6 linked regions of the Homo sapiens genome follow. The protein of the gene in region 4 purifies or fractionates together with the protein of the main gene of each other region. This does not show direct contact. Each region holds a gene or a part of one and is shown on either strand. Other genes may lie near its edges. The genes, in order: RAD23B, SUGT1, TMOD3, PPIL3, SEPHS1 and RPAP1.

The links.
Region 1: the proteins of PPIL3 (region 4) and RAD23B fractionate together in Homo sapiens (co-fractionation; one large-scale study listed by BioGRID). This does not show direct contact.
Region 2: the proteins of PPIL3 (region 4) and SUGT1 fractionate together in Homo sapiens (co-fractionation; one large-scale study listed by BioGRID). This does not show direct contact.
Region 3: the proteins of PPIL3 (region 4) and TMOD3 fractionate together in Homo sapiens (co-fractionation; one large-scale study listed by BioGRID). This does not show direct contact.
Region 5: the proteins of PPIL3 (region 4) and SEPHS1 fractionate together in Homo sapiens (co-fractionation; one large-scale study listed by BioGRID). This does not show direct contact.
Region 6: the proteins of PPIL3 (region 4) and RPAP1 fractionate together in Homo sapiens (co-fractionation; one large-scale study listed by BioGRID). This does not show direct contact.

What each region holds. Positions count from the first base shown.
Region 1 is NC_000009.12:107,330,484-107,332,689, reverse strand, and holds the end of RAD23B (UV excision repair protein RAD23 homolog B), read right to left. Parts: 3' UTR 501-2,206; downstream 1-500. UniProt on the Homo sapiens protein: Multiubiquitin chain receptor involved in modulation of proteasomal degradation. Binds to polyubiquitin chains.
Region 2 is NC_000013.11:52,659,336-52,662,835, reverse strand, and holds part of SUGT1 (protein SGT1 homolog), read right to left. Parts: intron 1,362-3,500; coding exon of another isoform or gene 1,266-1,361; intron 188-1,265; coding exon 134-187; intron 1-133. UniProt on the Homo sapiens protein: May play a role in ubiquitination and subsequent proteasomal degradation of target proteins.
Region 3 is NC_000015.10:51,895,653-51,899,152, reverse strand, and holds part of TMOD3 (tropomodulin-3), read right to left. Parts: intron 2,735-3,500; coding exon 2,627-2,734; intron 1-2,626. UniProt on the Homo sapiens protein: Blocks the elongation and depolymerization of the actin filaments at the pointed end. The Tmod/TM complex contributes to the formation of the short actin protofilament, which in turn defines the geometry of the membrane skeleton.
Region 4 is NC_000002.12:200,879,078-200,882,577, reverse strand, and holds part of PPIL3 (peptidyl-prolyl cis-trans isomerase-like 3), read left to right. Parts: intron 1-142; coding exon 143-236; intron 237-1,089; coding exon 1,090-1,157; intron 1,158-3,500. UniProt on the Homo sapiens protein: PPIases accelerate the folding of proteins. It catalyzes the cis-trans isomerization of proline imidic peptide bonds in oligopeptides. May be involved in pre-mRNA splicing.
Region 5 is NC_000010.11:13,341,794-13,345,293, forward strand, and holds part of SEPHS1 (selenide, water dikinase 1), read right to left. Parts: intron 3,236-3,500; 5' UTR 3,158-3,235; coding exon 2,965-3,157; intron 1-2,964. UniProt on the Homo sapiens protein: Synthesizes selenophosphate from selenide and ATP.
Region 6 is NC_000015.10:41,530,758-41,534,257, forward strand, and holds part of RPAP1 (RNA polymerase II-associated protein 1), read right to left. Parts: intron 446-3,500; coding exon 266-445; intron 1-265. UniProt on the Homo sapiens protein: Forms an interface between the RNA polymerase II enzyme and chaperone/scaffolding protein, suggesting that it is required to connect RNA polymerase II to regulators of protein complex formation.

The sequences.
Region 1 (2,206 bases), on a different chromosome or scaffold from region 4:
AAATGTAAAGATCACTCTTAGTTCATGGACCACATAACAGGTATATGCCAGATTTGGCTCATGAAGCTGTAGTTTGCCAGCCCTTGGCTTAGGGGGAAAAAATGGGGAAAATGGATGGGGGAGGCCAACTGAACTTCATGGCTGGAGAATCCACCAGAACTGACTGGGTCAGGAACACTCATTCCCTCCAATTGCTTACTTTCGGTAGAACATTTTGCAGCAGGCTTTGGCTGGCTGCTTCAGACAAGTATGGAACAATGGAAATTTTATGCATTCCCTAGAAGACCTCACTAACCTTAACATCCCAGCAAGTATCCCATCTCTGTGTTGAGAAAAGAACCAGGAGACCCAATAAAGTCAATCTAGTGCCTGGGCCTCCTATATGATACACTCACCAATTACTGAAGTAAAAAGAAGTATCAGTGACAGAAGCATTGTCAACTTTCAATTCTGATTCTACGTGACAGAATCATTTAAAAAATGAGAAGTGCAATGTTGGATGTATTGAAAATATTTTATAATCAATTCTCTAGAATCCTAGCCATCCAGTACAGGAAAAAATTATATTGGAACACTTCCGTATTTTTAAACAATGAAAAAAAATTTGACTAGAGGATGGCATAAGAAATTTACAAATACAAACTTAGGCTTCCTCACATTTCCCACAGAGCAACTAAACGAGAAAAAGATTTCAAGAAATGACAGTATACCTCGAATGCAAAATTCCAAAGTCAAATAGCTACTTACATTAAGAGATTTACCAAAACAGTTTGTAAATTAAACATTAACAGCAAAAGGCACAAAAAGCCTATTTCTTTTATGGTGTCTCGGCTGATTCTTTAAGAAGCAGATAAACAAGGTACTGTATGGAACGATCAAAACTTGGCCTGAGCTGTCTTCTGATAATTAATCCTAGTATATCCAGATTTGTTGTCCAAGGACACAAGCTCCATGCCACCTTCTGCTGTCACTTTCCAAGAAGAGGCTGTTTTTTTTTTTTGTTTCCAGTTTTCACTATGATCTGAGTAGACAGAGAATGTCATAAAATAAATGAGAGTATTCCATTATCCGATCAGAAATGCCACCTCTTTTCCCAACTCATTGCTCTGACTTGAAAGATGAACGTATATATGAATTCTCATTTTATTCTCCTGAGAAATTATGCATGATCCATTATAAAACATACAGGTAATACAAAGTCCAAAAGCCTGTCATGTTTATGGCAGTGGTGTGATCTCAGCTCACGGCAACCTTCACTTCCCGGGTTCAAGCAATTCTCATGCCTCAGCCTCCCAAGTAGCTGGGACCACAGGCGTGCGCCACCATGCCTGGCTATTTTTTGTATTTTTAGTATAGACGGGGTTTCGCCATGACGGTCAGGCTGGTCTCAATCTCCTGGCCTCAAGTGATCTGCCCACCTCGGCCTCCCAAAGTGCTGGGATTATAGGCATGAGCCACCATACCCAGCCAGTTTCATTTATTTTCATAATAGGTTATGAGTACGTGATGTAAATGCTTAAAAGTCATCATCACCATACTGTGCTAAAGATATTGAGAAATTATGCAGAGAAATCTGTGCAAATTCATCTTCTTAGTATCAGATGGTTAAAAAAAAGGAAACAAAAAACAAAAGCAATCCAAATTATTTCTTTAAATACTCTTATTTATACTCAGGAAAACAGATTTGAAAAACTGAACAAGTAGACATCTGCCCCGTTTATGATTAAATAACAATGCCAATGAAGGAGATTCCACAGAAAAAACTGAGATGAAAAAATCCAAATAAAAGCCAACACTGCTATTAAGATTTTTCTTTTAATATGCCATGAGATATCTTGATTGTATATTTTCCAAAGTACTTTCCAGCCACATCTCCCAACCCATCCAAAAGACTTTGCCAGTCTTTCCAATGCAATAAAAGATGCTGGATTATAGTTTTGTCTACCATTTCTTTTTGAAAGCAATATTATACTAATGACTTTAATGGTAATACACTCTTATCTAATAAAGAAACACATTTACAAATATCAGAAACCCAGTTTTGAAACATTTGCATTAATTTTGAACTGAATCAGCATTTTGTGGGTTTTTTAAAAGGCAGCAGTTTGACTCACGACTTGCTGATAAACACGTTTCTGCTGAGGGAAGGGGAAAAGACAGGGAGAGTGAATGCTGCATTTCTCCATTGGCCCCAAAAGTGCTAATT
Region 2 (3,500 bases), on a different chromosome or scaffold from region 4:
AAGTCCACATCTAAGGAAACGTATACTATTTAAAAGAAATTATAAAGATAAAAACAAATTTGTTTAAACCAAAAAAATTTCAGATGTTTACTTCTTTTTAAATTGAAACAAATACCAAGGGAGACCCACATACCATTCTGAGCTTCTTGACACCTTTTAATCCAGACACTGAAATTAGCATCTGCACCTAGAAAGAAAAAACTGACTATAACATCACTCATCTGCACAACCTATAAATCAACAAATACTTACTGAATACCTACTACATCCCAGGCAGTGTTCTAGGCACTGGGGAGTCGGCAGCGAACAAAACCTGTCTTAACAGACCTTATCACCAACTCTACTATAGTTATAAATATACCAATAGTTTAACATTTAGTTGTTAATCATGAAACATTTTGATTTTTTAAAAATTTTAACTACAGTCAACCTTAATTTCACAGATACAAATAATCTGCATTTCCCCCAATCCCGCTGCTCTTAGAGAAGCTTCCTCACACACAGAACAAAATCAGATGTAAATCAGACTCCCAATATGCCATCAGTTAGGGTGGGGAGGAGGCTTGGTAACTGGGAGCTGAGTTGAGGTTCAAAAGCCGTTCCCAGCCCCAGCTTGCTCTTCAATGCAGATACCTATTCAGTCCACTATTCTCTCAGTGGCTTTATCTGTTACCATGCCTTTCCTACCAACACCAAGCATCTTTAAATTCCGTGAAGTTTTGTCCTATCTCCAAGTTACATGGCAGTCGAGAGGCTATAGGTGATGTATTATATATTTATAGATAACAGTGTAAATGTATGCATAAACAAATTATTCACTTCTGGAGACACAGAACAATGATTACATTTAAACAGTCACAGTGCATAGTAAGATATGTTAAAAGTATTAAAAGTACTCTAAATAAGAGCTTATTAATTCAAGTTAACTGCAGACAAGATAAATTTGAAAATCTTAAATTAAAAATTTCTTAACAAAAATTTCTACTTTACTAATTTATAAAAGAAATCCAACTATACCAGCATTAATAAAAAATTTAAATACACTCTCACACACACTGTATTCTAGAGAACTATTGTATCAAAATCTATTATATCAAAAAGATTTGAGTAACCTATTATTTTAAGTAATCAGTAACTAAAACCAAGCAATTTATCACACAAAGAGGGGAAAAGGTAACAATTCTTTACCCTGTCTGATAAAAATAGAAGCCTAAAAGTTTAACTTAACTTTTTCCCAGATTTTGGCCGGGCATGGTGGCTCATACCTGTAATCCCAGCACTTTGGGAGTCCAAGGCAGGTGGATCACTTGAGGTCAAGAGTTGGAGACCAGCCTGGCCAACACGATGAAACCCCGTCTCTACTAAAAATACAAAAATTAGCCAGGCTTGGTGGTGCATGCCTGTAGTCCCAGCTGCTCAGGAGGTTGAGGCAGGAGAATCACCTGAACTTGAGAGACAGAGAACTGCACTATGGCCTGGACAACACAGTGAGACTCAGTCTCAAAAAAAGAAACAAACAAACAAACAAACAAAAACAAAAAAAAACCCCAAAAAACAACAACAAAAAAAGTTTCCTGGATTTAAAGACAAATTTATTTTTAAGTAAAATATCCTCAACAGCAATTTTACCAAACAGGTCTTCCTCTGAAGGCCACCTCTGAAATAACTAAAGAATAAATGTCAATGGCATGATATTAAGATATTACTCAAGAAAATAATCTAGGGGCCAGACGCAGTGGCTCATGCCTGTAACCCCAGCACTTTCAGAGGCCGAGGCAGGCAGAACGCTTGAGTCCAGGAGTTCAAGACCAGCCTGGGCAACATGGCAAATCCCCATCTCTGCAAAAAATAAAATGCAAAAATTAGTCAGGTGTGGTGGCATGTGCCTGTAGCCCCAGTTACTCAGGAGGCTGAGGTGGGAGGATCACTTGAGCCCAAGAGGTGGAGGCTGCAGTGACCCAAGATCGCACCACTGCACTCCAGCCTGGGCGACAGAGCGAGACCTTCTCTCGCTAAAAAAAGAAAGAAAAATGAAAATGTAGAGAATGGTATGACTCATGTTTCTTCAGGATTTTCACATTAGGTACCAAGGCACTACATAACTTCACTCTAGAATTTGCTAAGAGTGCAGATGTCCTGTTTGCTGACTGAATAGGCCTACTATTCACATACCAAAACTGGGATAAGCAAGTTTGAGAATAAGCCTTATCACCCAGACCTCTCCTTTTTTAATTTGTAGCTTCCATTTGCATAATCAGTGCTAAAATCCTTTTTTCTGAATAGGTACACAACAGAAAGGCAAACATTCAAAACAGTACAGAGTAAGAATGTAACATAAAATACTAAGAGTGAAGTTTCTTAATTTCAGCACTACTGACATTTTGGACCATATACTTCTTTGTTAGGCAGAACTGTCCTGGGCATTATAGAATATTTAGTAGCACCCCTGGTTTATACTCATTAGATGTCAGTAGCACAACCCCCATCCACCATTCATGATTATCAAAAATCTCTTCAGACATTGCATAAAGTTTCCTGGGAAGCAAAACCGTTTCCAGTTAAGAACCACTTCTTTAGAGAACTGTGATAAAACTCTATCATAACATAAAGATAAAATGATAATACAAGTAGGATTATGTAGTCTCCAATTTTCTGAAATTACTCACAACCTCTTAGTATTTTTCAGATTTAAAAATTCTTGGCTCTCGGCTGGGTGCAGTGGCTCATGCCTGTAATCCCAGCACTTTGGGAGGCCGAGGAGGGTGGATCACAAGGTCAGGAGATTGAGACCATCCTGGCTAACATGGTGAAACCCCATCTCTACTAAAAATACAAAAAAATTGGCCGGGCGTGGTGGTGGTCGCCTGTAGTCCCAGCTACTCGGGGGGCTGAGGCAGAAGAATGGCGTGAACCCGGGAGGCAGAGCTTGCAGTGAGTCGAGATCGCGCCACTGCACTCCAGCCTGGGCGACAGAGTGAGACTCCGTCTCAAAAAAAAAAAAAAAAAAAAAAAAAAAAAAAATATATATATATATATATATATATATTCTTGACTCTCACAATTTCTATATGTCTAGATATCCACACCACTGTGATACTTTTCATATATTCCCTCAAGAATATAACATTAAAAGTCACAATACTCTCAAAACTGTGTTTCTTCTGTACCCTCTCATAATTTACCCAAACGTACACTTCACTTCTCCATAAAAACCTTTAATGTTAAGATTTCACATCTCAGCAATCTGAATAATTTAAAATGAACAGACTTCTGACCAAGGCAAATTAAACTTTCACTTCTCCATTAGAAAAAAACAAAGCCAGACTAAACAGAGAGAGCATGTTAGGTGTTTCCATAGTTTTTTTTACTTCTAATGGTGAAGTTCATCTATGATTTAAATGCCAAAAGGCTAATTTAATCGATTTTAAGTGATCTCATATCTGCAATCAATATGAAATATAATTTAGATGAGAAAAACAGGTATTGGGTTTCTACAATTA
Region 3 (3,500 bases), on a different chromosome or scaffold from region 4:
TATGTACTAATTTCCAAGGCAGGGGCCAAAAGAAATGGTCAAGGCAGAAGGCCAGAAAAGAACACAGATAACCAGAACCAGAAGAGCACAAAGGCCATTGAGAAGAAGGGGCTAATAAAATATTAAATTCCTCAAGTAATGGTATGTCTTCAATCTGCTTCTATTTCATTTCTCATAGGATACAGTACAGTGTTAGACATTTGACTCAGTGCTTAATAAGTACCATATTGATTAATTAACAGAAGCCTACAAGTGAAAAAAGAAAGAGGAGGGAGACTGGGAAGGAAAGAAAAAGAGACAGAGGTAGGAAGAGAGAAGAAGGGAAGGAAGGAGGGGAAGGAAAGAGAGAGAAAAAAGAACAATGATCATGAGTTTATATAAAACAGCCCCTTAGAGGGATCAAAAGCAAGGTTAAACTACAGAAAATATGGGTAAGACCAAGCTTAAAGTTAAAGGAAAGGCAATAGGGCGTAGAGATACTAAAAAAACTGTGGCTGGTATCTACATACTTGTCCTTTCTATTAGCAACAACTAGCTATGTGACCTGGAACAAATCCCTTATCCATACATGTATTCGAATATTACTGATGGTCTATTATTTGATTAGCACTGTCCTAGAGATTCAGAGATAAAACACATTGGTCCCTGCCTGGCAGAATGTTCATTCTAGCTGGGGAGGGACACAGATAATAAAAGTAAGCAAAGTGCAATGTTAGAGGGTAAAAAGAAAAAAGGCACAATAGGGTAGATGGGGAATACTGGGGGTGGGAATGGGGTTGGTATTTTATATAGCACGGTCAGGAAAAGCCTCAACTAGAAGGTGACATTTGAGCAAAGAGTCAAAGTGATAAGACAAAGCTAAGTGGATTATTTTAGGAAGAAAGTTCAAGGCAGAAGGAACAAATGTACAGGCCCTGATTTGGGAGTCCACATGGCATGCTGAAGAAGGCTGTATGGCTAGAGTAGAATGAAAGAAAGGGCAAGTAAATGAGATGAAGTCCACTCATGTGAAGCCTTATAAGGCCACTGAAAGATTTTTATTTTTACTCTTAATGAGATGGGAAGCTGCTAGAGGGTTATCCGAATAGGAATGAGGTCATTTAACTTAAGTTTTAAAAGAATCACTCTTGGTGCTATGTAAAGAACTGACTTTGGGGTAGGTAAAATAGATGAAGGTAACCCAATTAGGAGGCTGTTGCAATAATCCAGGTGGGAAAAGATGGTGGCTTGGGTCAAGGTGGTAGTTGTGAAAATGGTGAGAAGTGGTTGGATTCTGAAATATTTTGAAGATAGGGCCAAAGGTAGGTTTAAGTTGCAAGAAAGGGATGTCGAGAATGATTCCATTAGTTTTTTGTTTTTTTTTTTTTTTTTGCTGGGCGTGGTGGCTCACGCCTGTAATCCTAGCACTTTGGGAGGTTGAGGTGGGCGGATCACAAGGTCAGGAGCTCGAGACCAGCCTGGCCAATATGGTGAAACCACATCTCTACTATAAATACAAAAATTAGCCAGGCGTGGTGGCGCATGCCTGTAATCCCAGCTACTCAGGAGGCTGAGGCAGGAGAATCGCTTGAACCCGGGAGGCGGAGGTTGCAGTGAGCCGAGATTGCGCCACTGCACTCTAGCCGGGGCAACAGAGTGAGACGCTGTCTCAAAAAAAAAAAAAAAAAAAATTTTTTTTTTTTGTTTGCCTGAGCAATGAAAGATTGAAATTGCATTTAGTAAGATAGAAAACAGCAGAGAAAAGCAGGCACAGGATGGAAGTCAGGAGTTTGAGGACTTACATGTAAGATGTCCATTAGACATCCAAGTAAAGCTGCTGAGGAGGTAGCTGGACATGAATACGGAGTTCAGGAGAGAGATACAAACTGTAGATAATAACACTGGGAGTCATCAGCAAGTATATGAAGATAATATATATATTTCTGAGATTACCCAGAAAGTCAGTGTAGACTGAGAAAAGAAGGACCACGTTCTGGGCCATTCCAATATTTAGAAGTTGAAGAGATATGGAGAAACCAGTACAGGGCTTTGAGAAGGAATGTCCACTGAGGTAAGGGGAGCCCCCAAGGGAGTGAGTGATATTCTCAAAGCCAATGAAACAAAAGGTTTATACCATGATCAAGTGGGATTTATCTCAGGAATGAAAGGCTGGTTCAACATATAAAAGTCAATCAATACACCACATTGACAGAATAAAGGACAAAAACCATATGAACATCTCAAGAGACACAGCAAAAGCATTTAACAAAAATCCACCACTAAGGATCCATAAATGGAATCCTCTGAAGATGTTAAAATAATGTGGTAGATCCCTATGTATTGATACAACAAAACTTTAAAGATAAACTGCAGAGTGAAAAATCAAGTTGCAGAACAGCATATACTACATGATTCCATTTATGTTTTAAAAAATTCATAGGAAGGAGGGGGAAGCTGGGAGGGGGAAAAAATTCATAGGAAGGAAATACAGGAAAAAATAAACACAAAAAGCTGGTAAGTAATATACTGCCTAATAGTGAGCTAAAACATTAACTATAAAAAAGGGGTAAATCTTGTTCATAAAAATCACCACTGTAACACACCCTGGGCATGTCATAATTTTGATATTCTCAAGTCGCTTACTTACAGTAGCAACAGGGTCATTGCTCCGGGTGGCTGCAAGACTGAAACATTTCACATGTGTGTTGGTTTCCAAAGCCTTTGCAAAATCTTTTAGGGTTGGAATTGGGATATTCTTGAAAGACAATAACATAAAACATCATTACATTTCAATTTTCATTATATTTAGTTTCCATTAATCAAATATATGGTTTTTTTTGCTTTAAAATGTATTCAGAAATTATACAAACACCTAAGAATTAGTCTACAAATGAATACAAATAATGCAGCTTCCTCCATAATTATCTGACTTATCTACGATGGAGCATTTGCATAAACTACTGACTCAGAGCAGAGCACATATCACCATTTCTCTAGCATTTAGGTTAAAAAAAATTCTCATTATTCTCACCTTTCATTATTCCTTTTATTTATTTATGTATTTTGAGACAGAGTTTTGCTCTTGTTGCCCAGGTTGGAGTGCAACGGCGCAATCTCAGCTCACTGCAACCTCTATCTCCCAGGTTTAAGCAACCCTCCTGCCTCAGCCTCCCAAGTAGCTGAGATTACAGGCATGCACCACCAGGTCCAGCTAATTTTGTATTTTTAGGAGAGATGGGGTTTCATCATGTTGGTCAGGCTGGTCCCGAACTCCTGACCTCAGGTGATCCACCCTCCTCGGCCTCCCAAAGTGCTGGGATTACAGGCATGAGTCACTGCACCCAGCCTTCATTATTCTTTTTATATGAAAATAAAAGTGGATTTACTTTTCTACAAGGAAAGAAATGAAGGAGTCCATCTCTGATGAGTACGATTCCTGAGGCAGACAGACTGTTCTCAGTCACTTAGTTTAAGCTACAAAGCACTAAGAGAGATTAACCCTACACTACTTGAAGGAGAGA
Region 4 (3,500 bases):
TAGGCAGGGAAATGACATCCAAAGTAATGACAACAGTCATAGTTTAAATATGCTGCTATCACGTTTTCAGTAAATATGATTGGTTTTTTGTCTTAACTGGGTTTCTGCTGCATCATTTCTCAATCATTTTTACTCCCTTCAGAATTTCTTGGCTCTTTGTGCCAGTAATTACTACAATGGCTGTATATTTCATAGGAATATCAAGGGTTTCATGGTTCAAACAGGAGATCCAACAGGTAAGTTATTCCATTAACCAAGATCTAAGGAACTGAATGTATAGTATGAAGAAGTGGGTAAAAGAAGAGGAATTAAATACGTGGAGTTTTTGTTTTGTTTTGTTTTGTTTAATAAGTTCTGTTCTACAAGTACAGAACATGCAGGTTTGTTACATAGGTATATGTGTGCCATGGTGGTTTGCTGCACCTATCAGCCTGTCCTCTAGGTTTTAAGCCCAGCATGCATTAGCTATTCGTCCTAATGCTCTCCCTCCCCTTGCCCCCACCCACAACTAGCCCTGCTGTGTGTTGTTCCCCTCCTTGTGTCCATGTGATCTCATTGTTCAACTCCCACTTATGAGTGAGAATATGCGGTGTTTGGTTTTCTGTTCCTGTGTTAGTTTGCTGAGAATGATGGCTTCCAGCCATCCATGTCCCTGCAAAGGACATGATCTCATCCTTTTTATGGCTGCATAGTATTACATGGTGCAATTTTAAAGCAGAAATTATTAGCACCTACCCCTAAAATGTGAACAATATTGTGCTCACTTTGGCAGCACATATACTAAAATTTGAACAATACAGAGAAGATTAGTGTGGCCCCTGCACAAGGATGAGACACAAATTTGTGAAGCTTTTCATACTTAAATATATATGAACAATATTTATAAGGAGGGTTATTCTTTTTTGTTTTTTGTAGGTCTGTTTTAATCTTCAGGTCTGTGAAGTTAAATTTGGGGAATTAGGAAAGGCCATATCAAATTTTATCTATATTTAAGCAGTCAAACTATAAAGTATTCCTTAAGTTTTGGGAAATGAACTTGTTTTCAATTTAATTAAATACTTCTTTTGATTTGCTTCACTTGTAATGTAGGAACTGGAAGAGGAGGCAACAGTATTTGGGGCAAGAAGTTTGAGGATGAATACAGTGAATATCTTAAGGTAAATCCTCAATGCTTTAAAAATCTATTTCTCATGCCTTGGTTATGCATGGAAACTTTGATACATGTGTCATAGTGATACAAGTTAACATCATTGCAAAATGAACATACTTTTTTATAGTTTTTGTACATTTGACAAATGATGTCGGGGAGACTTGAGAAATGGTGATCCTAGCCTGACATGTGTACTGGAATCCCACCACCACGTGGCTCTTGATAGTAAGTGAGTTCATCTTTGAATCTAACCTGAAATGTTTAACTAGTAGTGTACCAAAGAGACTTAATATCTCACCATAAAATTCATGTTGAATGACATGAAACAGTGGCCTTTTTTGAGAGTGGGGAGGAAAGACTATCAAACTTCCTGGTTGCAATGTTGCCCATTATCAGTACCCAGCTTTTATCATCTTCTGTTAGATGTTTGAACATCCCTGTATTAATATGACTTAATACCTATGGTAGATCACAACTAGGTTAAAGAGTAGTACATATAAATAGTCTTTAACATGGTAAAATTAGGGATTTTTAATTTTCTTTGTTATATTTTTCTGTGTTTTTCAAACCTCTGTGGAGTCATTTTTTTTTTTTGTCTAAAATTAAAAATTAGTGCATGCCTAGTTTTAAAAATCAATCCCACTTCCCAGAGATAACTTCAGTTGATGACTTATTATGTGGTCTTTCAAACTTTGTATCTCCATAGAATGATAACTTTATGATTAGAAAAAGAGCAATGAAGTATCCTCAACCAGGGCCGGGTACAGTAATCCCAGCACTTTGAGAAGCCCAGTAAGGAGGATTGCTTGAGGCCAAGAGTTTGAAACCAGCCTGGGCAACATAGTGAGACCCCCATCTCCACAAAAAAATACAAATATTAGCCTGTTATAGTGGCGTGTGCCTGTAGTCCCAGCTACTCAAGAGGCTGAAGTGGGAGGATTGCTTGAGCCCAGGAGATCAAGGCTGCAGTGAGCCAAGATCATGCACAGAACGAGACCCCACTCAAAAAAAAAAAAAAGTCTACTCAATCAAAATATGCAGTTTAAGTGTATTATTATATTTCCATTACATTAAAATGTACCCACAAAAATTCTGAAAAAAATTCATTGCAGTGTTTATCTCTGGATGATGAGACTAGGAGTAATTTCTTTTCTTTTTGCTTTTTTTAAAACCTTTTTTTAGAGACAGGGTCTTGTTCTGTCCCCTGGGCTGGAGTGCAGTGATGCATTCTTGGCTCACTGCAGACTAAATTTTCTGGGCTCAGGTGATCCTCCCACCTCAGCCTCCAGAGTAGCTGGGACTACAGGTGCATGTCACCATGCCTGGCTAATGTTTGTATTTTTTGTACAGATGGTGTCTCACTATGTTGCCCAAGCTGGTTCATTTTACTTTTCTATTGTAAGGAAATGTATTAGTTTTGTTACAGGAGTTGAGGCTGGGAGGTGATAAACTTTTTGAAAAGTCAACTTTTTCCTGAATGAATAACTAAACAATTTTTTAGGTATTAATTATTACATTAATGACTGCTTCCATATACCAGCTGAAAACCAGAGACTGGCTATGACAGAATCACCTGTGGAACTTTGTTGTTTGTTTTTGAGACTGGGTCTCACTCTGTTGCCTAAGCTGAGTGCAGTGGCCTGATCACGGTTCACTGCAGCCTTGACCTGAGCTCAAGCAGTTTCTCCTGCCTCAGCCTCTCAAGTGGCTGGACCACAGGAGTGCACCACCGTGCCCAGCTAATTTCTGATTTTTTGTAGAGACGAGGTCTTGCTCTGTTGCCCAGTCTGGTCTGAAACTCCTGGACTAAGATGATCCTCCTGTCTTGGCCTCCCAAAGTGTTGGGATTATAGGAGTGAGCCACTGCACTTGGCTGGAAGTTTTAAAACTATAACAGATCATGGCCTTGCCCTCCTAAAAATAAAGTCAGTAGGGCTGGTTAGGACTTAGACTATATTTTAAGGTTCCTAGATGATTCTTTTGCAGGCAGAGTTAAGAACCATTATATAGGCCGGGCGCGGTGGCTCACACCTGTAATCCCAGCACTTTGGGAGGCCGAGGCGGGCGGATCACGAGGGCAGGAGATCAAGACCATGCTGGCTAACACAGTGAAACCCCGTCTCTGCCAAAAAATACAAAAAATTAGCCAGGTGTGGTGGTGGGTGCCTGTAGTCCCAGCTACTTGGGAGGCTGAGGCAGGAGAATGGCCTGAACCCGGGAGGCAGTGCTTGCAGTGAGCCGAGATCGTGCTGCTGCACTCCAGTCTGGGCGACAGAGCGAGACTCCGTCTAAAAAAAAAAAAGAACCATTATATTATACACCTTATACACCAAGATTGTGGATATGTATT
Region 5 (3,500 bases), on a different chromosome or scaffold from region 4:
TAAAAATACAAAAAAATTAGCTGGGTGTGGTGGTGCACGTCTGTCATTCCAGCTACTTGGAGGGAGGCTGAGGCATGAGAATCAGGCCTGGGAGGGCCTTGAACCCGGGAGGCAGAGGTTGCAGTGAGCTGAGATTGCACCACTGTACTCAAGCCTGGGTGATGGAGTGAGACTCTATCTCAAGGAAAAAAAAAAAAAAAAGATGGCGGGGCGCGGTGTCTCACGCCTGTAATCCCAGCACTTTGGGAGGCCGAGGCAGGCGGATCACGAGGTCAGGAGATCGAGACCACTGTGAAACCCCGTCTCTACTAAAAATACAAAAAATTAGCCAGGCATGGTGGCGGGCGCCTGTAGTCCCAGCTACTCGGGAGGCTGAGGCAGGAGGATGGCGTGAACCTGGGAGGCGGAGCTTGCAATGAGCGGAGATCGCGCCACTGCACTCCAGCCTGGGCGACAGAGCGAGACTCCGTCTCAAAAAAAAAAAAAGTTAAAAAAATAAACATACAGCCGGGTGCGGTGGCTCACGCCTGTAATCCCAGCACTTTGGGAGGCTGAGGTGGGTGGATAACCTGAGCTCAGGAGCTTGAGACCAGCCTGGCCAACACCTTGAAACCCCGTCTCTACTAAAAACACAAAAAAATTTAGCTGGGTGTGGTGGCATGCGCCTGTAGTCCCAGCTACTTGGGAGGCAGAGGCAGGAGATCACTGCTTGAACCTGGGAAGCGGAGGTTGCAGTGAGCTGAGATTGTGCCACTGCACTCCAGCCTGGGCGACACAGTGAGACTTCATCTCAACAACAACAAAAAAAAGGTCAAAAACACCCATACATATATACCATATATACTTGTGTACAGAGGGTATACACATACATGTATTATATATGTAAGTACAGACATACATGGCACACCTACACACATTTTTGGTACAACAATGCAAAACAGTAATCTTTTTTTTTTTTTTGAGGCAGGGTCTCACTCTGTCTCCCAGGCCGCAGTACAGTGGTGTGACCTCAGCTCACTGTAGCCTCTGCCTCCCGGGCTCAAGGGATCCTCCCACCTCAGCCTCCCGAGTAGCTGAAACTACAGGTGTACACCAGCAAGCCCAGGTAACTTTTGTATTTTTAGTAGAGATGGGTTTCACCATTTTGCCCAGGCTGGTCTTGAACTCCTGACCTTGAGTGATCTGCCCATCTTGACCTCCCAAAGTGCTGGGATTACAGGTGTGAGCCACCGCACCCAACCCCAAACAGTAATTATTATTTTATAGATTAGGAAGCTGAGGCTCAGGAGGGCTGGGTGACATTCATGACATAATATGAGTGACTAGTAAGTAACTGTGCCAGAGGAAGTTATAAATAGTAATTCTTACTTTATGCCGTAATGTTTTAATTTCATTGGTTTTTGAGCATTAAGTATTAATAGCTTTTTTTCTTGACAGTTATCTAACAGCTTCCTCAGTATATTCTCATTTCTCGACAAATAAGCCAACATCAAACCCAGCTCGCTCACATGGTATTTCTCCACAGCTTGGCCATCAGCTGGACGGCAGGAACTGTTTTCAAACTGAGCTCCTCAAAGTCCTGCAGGTCACCAGCGACTGGGGTGTAACATTTCTTCCTTTCCAACAAAAGCAAGTCTGCTTTTATCTGCTTTCTCTATCTGGGAGTAAAGGAGACCCCAGGCTCATAACCAATGAACCTTACCAAATAATGGGCAAAAACAAATGAAATGAAAACCTTGGCTGGGTGTGGTGGCTTACACCTGTAATCCCAGCACTTTGGGAGGCTGAGGCAGGCAGATCACCTGAGGTCAGGAGTTCGAGAACAGCCTGGCCAACATGGTAAAACTCCCATCTCTACTAAAAATACAAAAATTAGCCGGGCATGTGGCAGGGGCCTATAATCCCAGCTACTCAAGAGGCTGAGGCAGAAGAATCGCATGAACCCAGGAGGCAGAGGTTGCAGTGAGCCAAGATCACGCCACTGCACTCCAGCCTGGGTGACAGAGTGAGAATCCATTTCAAAAAAAAAGGAAGAAAACTGATCAAGTCACACAGTAATTATCGAACATCCAAACCTCCGAAACTATGCGTCGAACACAAGAAAAGTGATCACAGTCTTGTACTGTGTACTTAATAAACTGCACAAGAAACATGAATAAACAATATCCCAGGAGCCCAGAATTTGTTTCTAAGCTCTGTGTTTGGGAAAAGTGAAATCACTCATGACATCAGGAATGTAGTAAAGAAAAAGACATTGCCCTGGTTCCAGATGACATCCTGGGGTCAAGAACAGATCCATCCAGTCCTGGGTCTGGAGCAGTCCCACCTCCTCACCGTAACACGCTTTTCGCCCGATGCACCCTGCAGAGAACCCCAATGCCCTCCTGACACAGTCACTGCCATCCAAGTACAGCACAAGAACCCTAAGGCTGGAACCGCCTTTCCTAGGGCAATGAAGGGAATGTGAGCATTTTAGGAGTCCTTTTAGGAAAAGGGAATAAAGTATTTCTGCTTAATCTTCAGCTAACAGAAAATTCAATTCAATTAAATTGAAAATAAAAATTAAAAAGTTTTTACTGTAATAACAATCTCAATTGCATACTCCATGATTTAAAAACTGTCAAGAGTACCCCTCTTGATGCGTTTCAAGTACTTTCTCTACATAAGTTACAAGAACATAACATAGCAATCATAACATTGATTGCTCTTCTAATCCTTCCCACAAAAATTAAAAAAAAATAAAGGGGGTACGATGTACACTATTTGGGTGATGGCTACACTAAAAGCCTAGTCTTCACCATTATGTAATATATTCATGTAACAAAACTGCATGTGTATTCCTCAAATCTATAAAAGCAAAAAAAGTAATAATAAAAAATAAATAGGCAACATGGGAGGCGAGAAATCCAGTTTTTGACTCACTGATTGGATCGCAGACCATCAAAGAAACACTGGGTTACCTACCAAGCCTTGGCATAACGGCTCCCAGAAACTGCTCATCTTCTTGGAAGTGGTTCTCCTGTAAAGATTCCAGCAATTTTTGCAGGACATCTTGGGGCACTTTGCAGCCTGTGCCCTTCAGTTCAGTGAATCTGGTTAGCCGGAAGCTTTTGTCCAATTCGTAACTTTCCGGGTTAAAGGACTCCCGCGTAGACATGGTTCTTGGGCCCCGCTCTCCTCACAGCTCAGCCCCTCCCCTCCCTCTGCGGGTTGGCTGGGTTCTTTATGGATCCACCTGGGTGTCACCAAAACACAAAGATGCCATGAAAAGAATTCCCACTGGGACCTGCCAGCGAATCAAGTGAATACATGACAGCGAAAAGTCAATGTGACAAGGGCTGAAATCATCAAGACCACTTATATTCACCACAGCAGTGCATATGACAAAATAGATCTTTTCATAACGGGACTGCGTCAGCACAGACATCTATGTAAAATCTGACATCTGGACTGTGGTTTTAACTGTGGCAAGAGGGCCAGCCTGCAGGTTCACATGACAC
Region 6 (3,500 bases), on a different chromosome or scaffold from region 4:
GTGGAGTGGGATTCAGCCATCACGCATTGCTGCCTCTTAAAAGGGAAGGCGGAGAAGGGGCAGTAACAGGACAAGAAAACAGGAAGCATGTGCAGGAAGAAGACATGCATCAGCAATGAAGACTGACTTGAAGCCAATAATGAGGATTAATGTTAGATGTCCAAAAGCACAGAAGCTTCTCTCTTCTCTCATTTGCCAGGCCTAGGAAAAGGGACAATTTCCCCTACTTTTATCCACCAAAATATGACCCCCGCCTCCTGCAAACCTGGGGCTTCTGGCTCCAGCTTGTCTCTCTTCCTGGGCTCACTGGCAAAAGCTGACATGAGGGGTTCCTCCTTGGTGACATTAGCAGAGGGTCCTCCTGGCCTCTGCTCCTCAGAGGCTGTCTCTCCTGTTTGCTCTTGCGTGTGGCTGTGAGATCTCAAGAAAGCAACCAAGCTGGGGTCTAGAGGCGAAGGTAGAGGGGAGAGTGAGTGAGGGTAGATCCTCCCTGGCCTCCTACAGACCTGGAACCCGCTGAATATCGCCTGTCTGTGGGTGCCAAGGACAGGACAAGCTGCTTCCGAGCCTGGGCCTGAGCCTTCTGGGTGCTCCTGTGGCCCATCAATGACCCAGCCTTCTCACACCTGTGGGGTCACTAGGCCCACCTGCCCACCTGCCCACCTTTCCCTCTATCCCTCACAGTCCACTGGCCCAGGTTCCTATGCCTATCCCTTTGGTTTCAGGTCACAGTTCCAATGTAAGTGGCTGTAGAATGAATAAGTTAATGTTGACTAGGGCCAAAAAGAAGGCATTTACAGAAAGAATTTCCTTCTCTTAGCTAATTTATTTATGCACACACACATATATATATATATATATATATATATATTTTTTTTTTTTTTTTTTTTTTTTTTTTTTTGAGACGGAATCTCGCTGTGTCGCCCGGGCTGGAGTGCAGTGGTGCAATCTCAACTTACTGCAACCTCCATCTCCCAGGTTCAAGGGATTCTCCTGCCTCAGCCTCCTGAGTAGCTGGGATTAAAAGTGCCTGCCACCACGCCTGGCTAATTTTTGTATTTTTACTAGAGACGGGGTTTTACCATGTTGCTCAGGCTGTAAATATATATTTTTAAAGAGATAGGGTCTTGCTCTGTTACCCATGCTGGAGTGCAGTGGCACAATCGTAGCTCACCACAGCCTCAAACTCCTGGGCTCAAGCAATCCTCCCGCCTCAGCCTCCCAAGTAACTGGGACTACCGGCATGCACCACCATATCTGGCTAATTTTTTTTTTTTTTTTTGAGACAGAGTCTCACTCTGTCGCCCAGGCTGGAGTGCCATGGCACGATCTCGGCTCACTGCAAGGTCCGCCTCCCGGGTTCAAGTGATTTTCTTGCCTCAGCCTCCCGAGTAGCTGGGACTACAGGCGTGTGCCACCACGCCCAGCTAATTTTTGTATTTTTAGTAGAGACAGGGTTTCACCGTGTTGGCCAGGATGGTCTCAATGTCTTGATCTTGTGATCCGCCCACCTCAGCCTCCCAAAGTGCTGGGATTACAGGCGTGAGCCTCCACACCTGGCTGTAATTTTTTATATCTTTATTTTTTGTAGAGATGGGGTCTCATGATGTTCCTCAAGCTGGTCGTAAACTCTTGGCCTCAAGCAATCCTCTCACCTCAACCTCCCAAAGTGCTGGAATTACAGGGCAAGGCACCATACTGAGCCCTAACACGTATTATACTCTATAGAGGTGCTAGTATACAGTGGGTAACAAGATTGACTGAGTGCCTGGCATTTTGGTGAACAGACACTAGGGGTGAGGCATAGCATAGAACAGTATCACAGAGTAGAAGAGACTATACATATACTAGAGTATAGCTATAATAAAGCATAGTGTATACTATACCAGGGTAGTACAGTTATACATAGCACAGTGGTTAAAAAGTAGGGCCTCGGCTGGGCACGGTGACCATCTCAAAAAAAAAATCGCAGCACTTCAGCAGGCCGAGGCAGATGGGTCGCTGGAGGTCAGGAGTTCAAGACCAGCCTGGCCAACATGGTGAAACCCATCTCTACTAAAAATACAAAAAAATTAGCTGGGTGTGGTGGTGCACATCTGTAATCCCAGCTACTCAGGAGGCTGAGGCAGGAAAATCGCTTGAACTAGGGAGGTACAGGTTGCAGTGAGCTGAGATCGTGTCACTGTACTCCACCCAGGACAACAGAGCGAGACTCCGTCTCAAAAAAAAAAAAAAAAAAAAAAAAAGCAGGGCATATGAGACCAGGTAGATCTGGGTTTAAATCCTGTGTCCTGTGCTTCTTATAAGGTGTGTGACCTGGGTAGAATTTCTTTTAAATTTTAGGCCTCAGTTTCTTTCATAAGTAAAATAGGGTTAATACCACCTACCTCACAGGACAAGTTTAAGGACAGAACTGAATAATGCATTAAAGGTCAGGCACGGTGGCTCATGCCTGTAATCCCAGCACTTTGGGAGGCTGAGGTCGGTGGATCACTTGATGCCAGGAGTTCGAAACTAGCCTGGCCAACATGGTGAGACCCCATCTCTACTGAAAATAAAAAAAATTAGCCAAGCATGGTGGTACACACCTCTAATTCCAGCTGCTGAAAAGGCTGAGGCACAAGAATCACTTGAACCTGGGAGGCAGAGGTTGCAGTGAGCCGAGATCGTGCCATTCCACTCCAGCCTGGGTGACAGAGGGAGACTCTGAAAACAAAAAACAAAAAACAAAAACCAACCTGTGCAATATAGTGAGACCTCATCTCTACAAAAACCTTAAAAGAAATTCGCTGGGGGCCAGGCACGGTGGCTCACACCTGTAATCCCAGCACTTTGGGAGGCACTTTGATCCACCTGAGGTCAAGAGTTCGAAACCAGCCTGGCCAATACAGGGAAACCCCGTCTCTACTAAAAATACAAAAAATAAAAAAATTAGCCAGGCATGGTGGCAGGCGCCTGTAATCCCAGCTACTTTGGAGGCTGAGACAGGAGAATTGCTTGAACCTGGGAGGCAGAGGTTGCAGTGAGCAGAGATTGCGCCATTGCACTCCAGCCTGGGCAACAAGAGGAAAAATCCGTCTTAAAAAAAAAAAAAAACCTAGGCGCAGTGGCTCCAGCACTTTGGGAGGCCAAGGCCAGTGGATCACCTGAGGTCAGGAGTTCGACACCAGCCTGGCCAACATGGTGAAACTCCGTCTCTACTAAAAATACAAAAATTAGTTGGGTATGGTGGTGGGCACCTGTAATCCCAGATACTCAGGAGGCTGAGGCAGGAGAATCATTTGAACCCAGGAGGCGGAGGTTGCAGTGAGCCTACGTCGCGCCATTGCACTCTAACCTGGGCAACAAGACCGAAACTCCATCTCAAAAAAAAAAAAAGGCCGGGCATGGTGGCTCATGCTTGTAATCCTAGCACTTTGGGAGGCCGAGGAGGGCAGATCACCTGAGGTTGGGAGTTCGAGACCAGCCTGACCAACATGGAGAAACCCTACCTCTACTAA